Linked DNA regions of Homo sapiens. The protein of the gene in region 1 purifies or fractionates together with the protein of each later gene. This does not show direct contact. Each region holds a gene or a part of one and is shown on either strand. Other genes may lie near its edges.

The links.
Region 2: the proteins of HERC4 (region 1) and TKTL2 purify together in Homo sapiens (co-immunoprecipitation; one large-scale study listed by IntAct). This does not show direct contact.

The regions. Positions count from the first base shown.
Region 1 is NC_000010.11:67,988,284-67,991,783, forward strand, and holds part of HERC4 (probable E3 ubiquitin-protein ligase HERC4), read right to left. Parts: intron 2,917-3,500; coding exon 2,857-2,916; intron 2,733-2,856; coding exon 2,621-2,732; intron 2,118-2,620; coding exon 1,928-2,117; intron 553-1,927; coding exon 380-552; intron 1-379. UniProt on the Homo sapiens protein: Probable E3 ubiquitin-protein ligase involved in either protein trafficking or in the distribution of cellular structures. Required for spermatozoon maturation and fertility, and for the removal of the cytoplasmic droplet of the spermatozoon.
Region 2 is NC_000004.12:163,470,679-163,475,250, reverse strand, and holds TKTL2 (transketolase-like protein 2), read left to right. Parts: upstream 1-1,496; 5' UTR 1,497-1,516; coding exon 1,517-3,397; 3' UTR 3,398-4,156; downstream 4,157-4,572. UniProt on the Homo sapiens protein: Plays an essential role in total transketolase activity and cell proliferation in cancer cells; after transfection with anti-TKTL1 siRNA, total transketolase activity dramatically decreases and proliferation was significantly inhibited in cancer cells.

The DNA.
Region 1 (3,500 bases):
ATGTTCATAATTACAACTAGGACCCAATCTCTTTCACAAGATAACCACTTACAGCTAACAAAAACCATATAATGCAAACTAACAAATTATATTCTTCATAAGGAAATATAAGGAGAATTCTAACTCATTAGTATGTTATTGTTCTGCCCAACTATGGATAAGTTATCTATACATGCCTAACAAAGTCAGGTAAGACCAGAGCTCCAAAGGACAGGTTTATTACTTCTTTTAAGAGAAAGTATAGATAACTTTTCCAAATTTCTATAATATGCATTGTTTTTGCCAATCTAAATCTTTAATAGATTAATGTTAAAATGAACAGTATCAATCTGTTAATAGGAATGGGGAAAGAGGAAAATAAAGGAATGATTGGACATACCCTATGTAGTATTTCTAAAACCTTTAATGCAGTATGAAGAAAACTGTTGAAAATTCTTCTTTCAGAAGGGGGAATACCGATCTTGTAGAGTTTCAAAAGATGTACCACAACTTCCTTAAAAAGTTCTACTATCTTGAGGAATAGTGGAGGTTCAAGTACTGACCACCAGTTTTCTGTTATTAAAAAGTGAACATGCAAATAAAATGAATTTTTTAAAAAATCACAATTTTCAAAATCATACTGACTTTTTTTCTGAAACAGTAGTTGTTAAACCTGAGAAAACCCCAGAAAGATGCATATAACACAATATCTTATGTAACATTTGTAAGGTTTATAAACCTCCCCCCGACCAAGTTAAACAATATTGTCCGAAAAGCTCTCAAAAGCAAAAATAAAGTGTGAAAGTCTTGTTGAATTTATATTCTTGGTTTCCTAAGTTATATAAAAAACTCACCACTATACCTAATATTAAAACCAGTTTTTAAAAAATGTTTTGAAAATTACAGTTTCAATTTTTAAACAAAACATCCTTTAAATTGTATTGCTCTAATACTAAAGGATCTTTCTAACTTTTATCTTTCAATTTAATATATGGTTGAAATATTGTGAACCACTACCTTTAAAATGCAAGGTACTCCTGAAGATCAAATACAGAAGCTGAACAATGTAAAGTGTAACATATGGGTCCTTCCCCACATTCACTATTTGTAGTTACTAAGTACAAACACTTCAATCCTATGAAGCAGGCAGAAAGAATACAAAAACTTCTGACAACAGGAAAGCAATACTCTTTTCAGTCCCTGCTTGACTCTTTTTCCCTCAGATTCCCATATTCTACCCCTTGCTTGTTGCTTCCTCCATTTACCCTCAGCCTTAAAGTTCTTGTACTGACATTATTACTTCTATATATCTCAGCTCCACATATCTAACAAATACCATTAGAAAGAAAAGCACTGGGTTAAATGTAGCAAAAAAAGTATAAAGGCCAGGAAATAGAGATAAAATCTAGACAATTAGAAAAATTAAAGTGAGAAAACTTTATGCCAAAAAACCAGAACAGTAAGAGATAGAAGTGCAAGATCAGATGAGCAATAAAATCTAGTCTATAGGCAGAAAAATAAAATCAAATATCATGAAATTAGCAAGTGAAGGAAACACAAGATAAAGGGCTTATATCAGGGTTCCAAGAAGATTTAAAGCCCATGTTTGTTCAGTTTTAATTGTTCCTCCTCCTTTACTTCTTTAATAGCAAGATTATACTAAAGGCGATGAGGGAAAGGAATACGGGTGACAGTTTTTAACTTTCCTAATACTGTCTCTGCTGTTATGTTTAATTGAACTTCTATATCTAACATGTTTTTCTTTCAACAACTCCAACAACTAGAATCAAAAGACTAGACAAAAGCAAGAAAAGGAAAAACAGGTTCATTTTTGCCTAAGACAGTGTCAAATAAGCAGGGCAGCAGAACTGCAAATGGCAAAAGAACTTATGAAGCATTTTCATTTAAAGAGAAAAGGTTTCAAAAGAAAAAATATTAGAATTCTTACCAAGTACTTTCAGTGGTGCCTTTTCTAGGTTCACAAGAGCTGTACCAAAGGGAATTGCTATTGTTGTGAAATTGTTGGAATCACTCATCAGGGGACATTCTGGTAGAGTAAGATAAAACCTCAATGCTTCAACATCAGGTAAGGAGCTAGTCAGTTTAGGAATAAGATTCTTTTCCAAACTAGCTGCCACCTATATTTTGACAAAAAGTAAAACCTACTTCATTTAAAATGAATACACTTTCAAAGAAAAAAAAAAAAAAGGAAGGCAGGAAGAAAAGAAAGAAAAGGAAAATTTTGCACTACAGCAAATATGAAATGGTGAAGAAGAAAAAAGAAAGACAATGTCTTACAATGAATATACTTTGGAGCACAATGAAAATTAATGCCTAAGCATTACTTGGAGAATTTAAAAAATCACGTGTACAAGTCTCAATTTAAACTCTCTACCTCTATAACCATACACAAACTTAAGCAACGTGGTAATGTTAAGTAATTCAGGGTCTGCTTCAAACATCTGAAAAGATTTATAGATCTTTGACAGCTAAATTACAAATGCTTTAAAATAAAATCTTATTTTAAAAGCACATCGTAAGAGTCTGTGAAACTGCAAAGTAAATTAGGCTATAAACGTATAAAACAAAAGAAAACAAAATCAACAGATAATACTGTAAACATAATACTTTAAAAACAGACCTGCTGAGATATCTGCGGATGATCAGGTTGTATAAGTTTGTGGAATAAAAGCCTAGCAGCATTCATATCAACCCCTGAAAATCTGGTACCTGTTCTATAGTGATCATCATTGCTAAAAAACAGAAAAGAAAAAAAAAAATAGAATAAAAATTTAAAATTATTTCATTTTTTAATTTGATATACTATTTAAGACAATAAATTTGAAAATTTCAGCATATTAAAGAATTGCCACTTACCTAACAGCTAAAAAACTTCCATTTAGGCAACCAGAGGAAGAAAACGTTCCATCTATCTCACTAAAAAATTTAAAAAAGTTTTTTTAATCATAGAATCAGAAATTTAATTGTTTACCCTTTCTTAAAAAAGAATTAAAATGAATAATTAATCTAATGTTTAATGCTACAGAGCACTCCTCTAACACCCAATTAGATGAATCAGAATTACATAAATTGCTAAAGACTGATAAAATAATACTTGATGAAGGTATTACTGTTTATTCTAGACTTTCTTAAATATTACTTTCATCCATTTATCCAATGTTATCTGCTTTAAAACATGGTATTTTAAAAATTAAGTGTGTATGTTCATGTAAAAAGTTTTTTAATTTAAAAAAATTTTAAACATTTTATATTGGCAGTGAGCCTAATCTGGGATGCCTTTGGGATTTTCAGAAAAATTATAGTTTTGGAAAACAAGCTAGAGAAACAAAACAGCTTTTCAAATACAACCCATCATCCCAAATACCAACAAAAAACAAATAACATCTTAAGTGCTACTAGGCAAGTTAACAAAATATTCAAGAAAGAAATAATACTCAAGTCTTCCACAAAGTATAAAAGTTAAGATAGTGACCATTATAAAACCAGAAGGAACACATTTC
Region 2 (4,572 bases), on another chromosome or scaffold:
TATGTGCCCTAATTTTAACGTGAAGTTAAGGTAAGAATTATTGCTCAAGAAACCAAGAGGTTTAACATCGCAATATGGGAAGGTATGATATATTATCATTGTGTTTTTTTTAATTGTTGTTTTATTGATGACAAACCATAACCTTGGCCTGCTAGAAGAGTTCAATGGCACAAATTTAGTTTTTTTTGTTTTAGACGGAGTCTCGCTCTGTCTCCCAGGCTGGAGTGCAGTGGCACAATCTGGGCTCACTGCAAGCTCCACCTCCCAGGTTCACGCCATTCTCCTGCCTCAGCCTCCCGAGTAGCTGGGACTACAGGTGCCCATCACCACGCCCAGCTAATTTTTTTGTATTTTTAGTAGACACGGGGTTTCACCGTGTTAGCCAGGATGGTCTCGAACTCCTGACCTTGTGATCCGCCTGCCTCGGCCTCCCAAAGTGCTGGGATTACAGGTGTGAGCCACAGCACCCGGCCCACAAATTTAGTTTTTTAAAGTAAGTAACTTTGTCTTAAAAATGATTTGTAGTAATAGTCATTAAAAGATAAACTGAGGCACATTAAAATATTAAAGCATTTATTTGACCATTCAGTGATTCATGAATCTGGTAGCTCCTGATAAAGGAGCCAAGGAGAAGGCTTTTATAGGGTGAATTTGGAAGCAAAGGAAAGATATTTGATTGGTTAAAGTGGAGTACTAGACTTATTTGGGTCATCCCAGTGGAAAGTCCCCAGTTAGAAGTTAGCTGGCAGTTTCTGATTGATTAAGCTTAAATTTCCTTTTTATCATTTACACTGATTTGGGTTTCCTTTCCTTAGGTAGGAACTCATGGAGCTGAAGCTACCTCAGCCTACTGGCCTTCTAATTATTTCAACACAGAAATAGTACTTTACGGCACACTGGAGTTGCAATTCTATTCTGCAATTGGGTGGTTTCAGATTTGTTCTTCCTATAAATTTTGGTCAAATTAGTCATTGCATTTCTTTCTATAAGTCTGAGATTCAGATATTTGGTTGCTCTGAGAAAGTCTCTGTTGAGATAGCATTGCCATACTGGTCAGATTGAAAGTGACTTTGTATCCTTTCTATTAATGTTCTGATATGAAAGAGTGATGACTCGGATATAGTGTTAATGCATTAAAAAAGCACAGCCTGACAAATCGCTTCCTATAATACACAGAAAAATGTCTAGTCTTGAATTTATAACACAGGGAAAGGTAAAAAATTTAATTATGCTTCCTAATGTTGAACATGCACGTGACAAAGTAAATACTAAAAATCCATTCAGCTGGGCGTGGACAGGGAGAGGGAACGGTGCACATCAGAGGGTGCAGGCTACTCCAACGTTTCCGTTTCCTCAGTCTCGCGGGAAGCTCCGTTGTGGGCGCCCCGGCTGGTGGCTGAGCTCAGGCCTTCAGGCAGAGGGGAGGCGAGGGCGGGGCGGTCACGTGAGAGCACTGCCGCGGTGGGTTGTGGGGGTGCTGCGGCGCCGTTTGCTTTGCCAAACCGACAAAAGAGAGATGATGGCCAACGACGCCAAGCCCGACGTGAAGACCGTGCAGGTGCTGCGGGACACAGCCAACCGCCTGCGGATCCATTCCATCAGGGCCACGTGTGCCTCTGGTTCTGGCCAGCTCACGTCGTGCTGCAGTGCAGCGGAGGTCGTGTCTGTCCTCTTCTTCCACACGATGAAGTATAAACAGACAGACCCAGAACACCCGGACAACGACCGGTTCATCCTCTCCAGGGGACATGCTGCTCCTATCCTCTATGCTGCTTGGGTGGAGGTGGGTGACATCAGTGAATCTGACTTGCTGAACCTGAGGAAACTTCACAGCGACTTGGAGAGACACCCTACCCCCCGATTGCCGTTTGTTGACGTGGCAACAGGGTCCCTAGGTCAGGGATTAGGTACTGCATGTGGAATGGCTTATACTGGCAAGTACCTTGACAAGGCCAGCTACCGGGTGTTCTGCCTTATGGGAGATGGCGAATCCTCAGAAGGCTCTGTGTGGGAGGCTTTTGCTTTTGCCTCCCACTACAACTTGGACAATCTCGTGGCGGTCTTCGACGTGAACCGCTTGGGACAAAGTGGCCCTGCACCCCTTGAGCATGGCGCAGACATCTACCAGAATTGCTGTGAAGCCTTTGGATGGAATACTTACTTAGTGGATGGCCATGATGTGGAGGCCTTGTGCCAAGCATTTTGGCAAGCAAGTCAAGTGAAGAACAAGCCTACTGCTATAGTTGCCAAGACCTTCAAAGGTCGGGGTATTCCAAATATTGAGGATGCAGAAAATTGGCATGGAAAGCCAGTGCCAAAAGAAAGAGCAGATGCAATTGTCAAATTAATTGAGAGTCAGATACAGACCAATGAGAATCTCATACCAAAATCGCCTGTGGAAGACTCACCTCAAATAAGCATCACAGATATAAAAATGACCTCCCCACCTGCTTACAAAGTTGGTGACAAGATAGCTACTCAGAAAACATATGGTTTGGCTCTGGCTAAACTGGGCCGTGCAAATGAAAGAGTTATTGTTCTGAGTGGTGACACGATGAACTCCACCTTTTCTGAGATATTCAGGAAAGAACACCCTGAGCGTTTCATAGAGTGTATTATTGCTGAACAAAACATGGTAAGTGTGGCACTAGGCTGTGCTACACGTGGTCGAACCATTGCTTTTGCTGGTGCTTTTGCTGCCTTTTTTACTAGAGCATTCGATCAGCTCCGAATGGGAGCCATTTCTCAAGCCAATATCAACCTTATTGGTTCCCACTGTGGGGTATCCACTGGAGAAGATGGAGTCTCCCAGATGGCCCTGGAGGATCTAGCCATGTTCCGAAGCATTCCCAATTGTACTGTTTTCTATCCAAGTGATGCCATCTCGACAGAGCATGCTATTTATCTAGCCGCCAATACCAAGGGAATGTGCTTCATTCGAACCAGCCAACCAGAAACTGCAGTTATTTATACCCCACAAGAAAATTTTGAGATTGGCCAGGCCAAGGTGGTCCGCCACGGTGTCAATGATAAAGTCACAGTAATTGGAGCTGGAGTTACTCTCCATGAAGCCTTAGAAGCTGCTGACCATCTTTCTCAACAAGGTATTTCTGTCCGTGTCATCGACCCATTTACCATTAAACCCCTGGATGCCGCCACCATCATCTCCAGTGCAAAAGCCACAGGCGGCCGAGTTATCACAGTGGAGGATCACTACAGGGAAGGTGGCATTGGAGAAGCTGTTTGTGCAGCTGTCTCCAGGGAGCCTGATATCCTTGTTCATCAACTGGCAGTGTCAGGAGTGCCTCAACGTGGGAAAACTAGTGAATTGCTGGATATGTTTGGAATCAGTACCAGACACATTATAGCAGCCGTAACACTTACTTTAATGAAGTAAACTAGGCTTATTTCTAAAAAGTCAAGTCTATTGGCTTTGGCCCAAAAGCACTGGTATCTTTGTATTAAATTCATGTTTATTGTCACAAAACCATTATTTATACCTATACAGTTGTACTGTTTCTTTTAAAGCAAAGCCATTTAACATCTTTCTTCATTCCTAATTTGGAAATTAAAGTTTACCTTTCTGTTAATCTATGTATAAATGTTACTCTGAGTTATTAATGTGGATTTTAAAATTGTAAGCAATAGAATAGGAAATAAAACAACTACCTAATACAAATATTTCTGATAAGACTACAAATATCTGACTGAGCTGGGGATTAAAGTAGAGGTAACTGTATCTTAAATGAGTATGATTTCCTTGTAAGTTAAAAAAATTGAAATTTAATTGTAGACTTCAATAGTCCAAGTTTTGAAGGATGTTTGAGCTTTTGTATAATGCCATTTATACCTGCAGTTTTACAGATAATGTTTGACTGCAGTTGCCTTGGAAATTCCTCCAAAGTTTGCCTTCATCTCTCCTCTACAGTTTGGAGGTGATGGTGCAGCAGTGGAACATCTCTTGATGCACCACACTACTTGTGTTCTGTGAAGTGATGAAAGTATAACTGGTTCTAGTTTGCACACTACACACATAGTTTTGTGAAGCTTCAGAAATGTTTTTTCTTTTCCTTGTGGCCAAACCAGTTTGTTAATCTGATTATATTCATCTGCTAATGATACTAAAGTTAATGTAATAAAGCATTTAAAAATCAGATACTTCAGTCTGTGCTGTGTATGTGGGATTTGATTTCTTCCTGATGAAATCCTAAATAAGGAGAACTTGTGTCTAAATAAGAAACAGAGAGAGTCATGACCCCCAGAAGCAAACCTGGAAAAAGGTTGAAGCTGGAGATAAGTTACTAGAGAAGATTGTATGGACTAAAAAGCCATCCCTTAAGCAGACTCCTGACTTTTGGCTGTCAGTGTGTAAATATATGCTTGGAGTACAAGAAAGTACCAGTCAGGCAAATCATAGATGGACCCAAGGTTCCAAACTAAATTAAATTACTCTGTGTCTATGTCAGGTAATTATTTCCTTACTTTTATTACCCTCATTAAGTTCTTTGGAGGCATAACCAATTTGTCTCAGCAATCATTGTCTTAGGAGGTATAATAGAGCCAAAAAATATT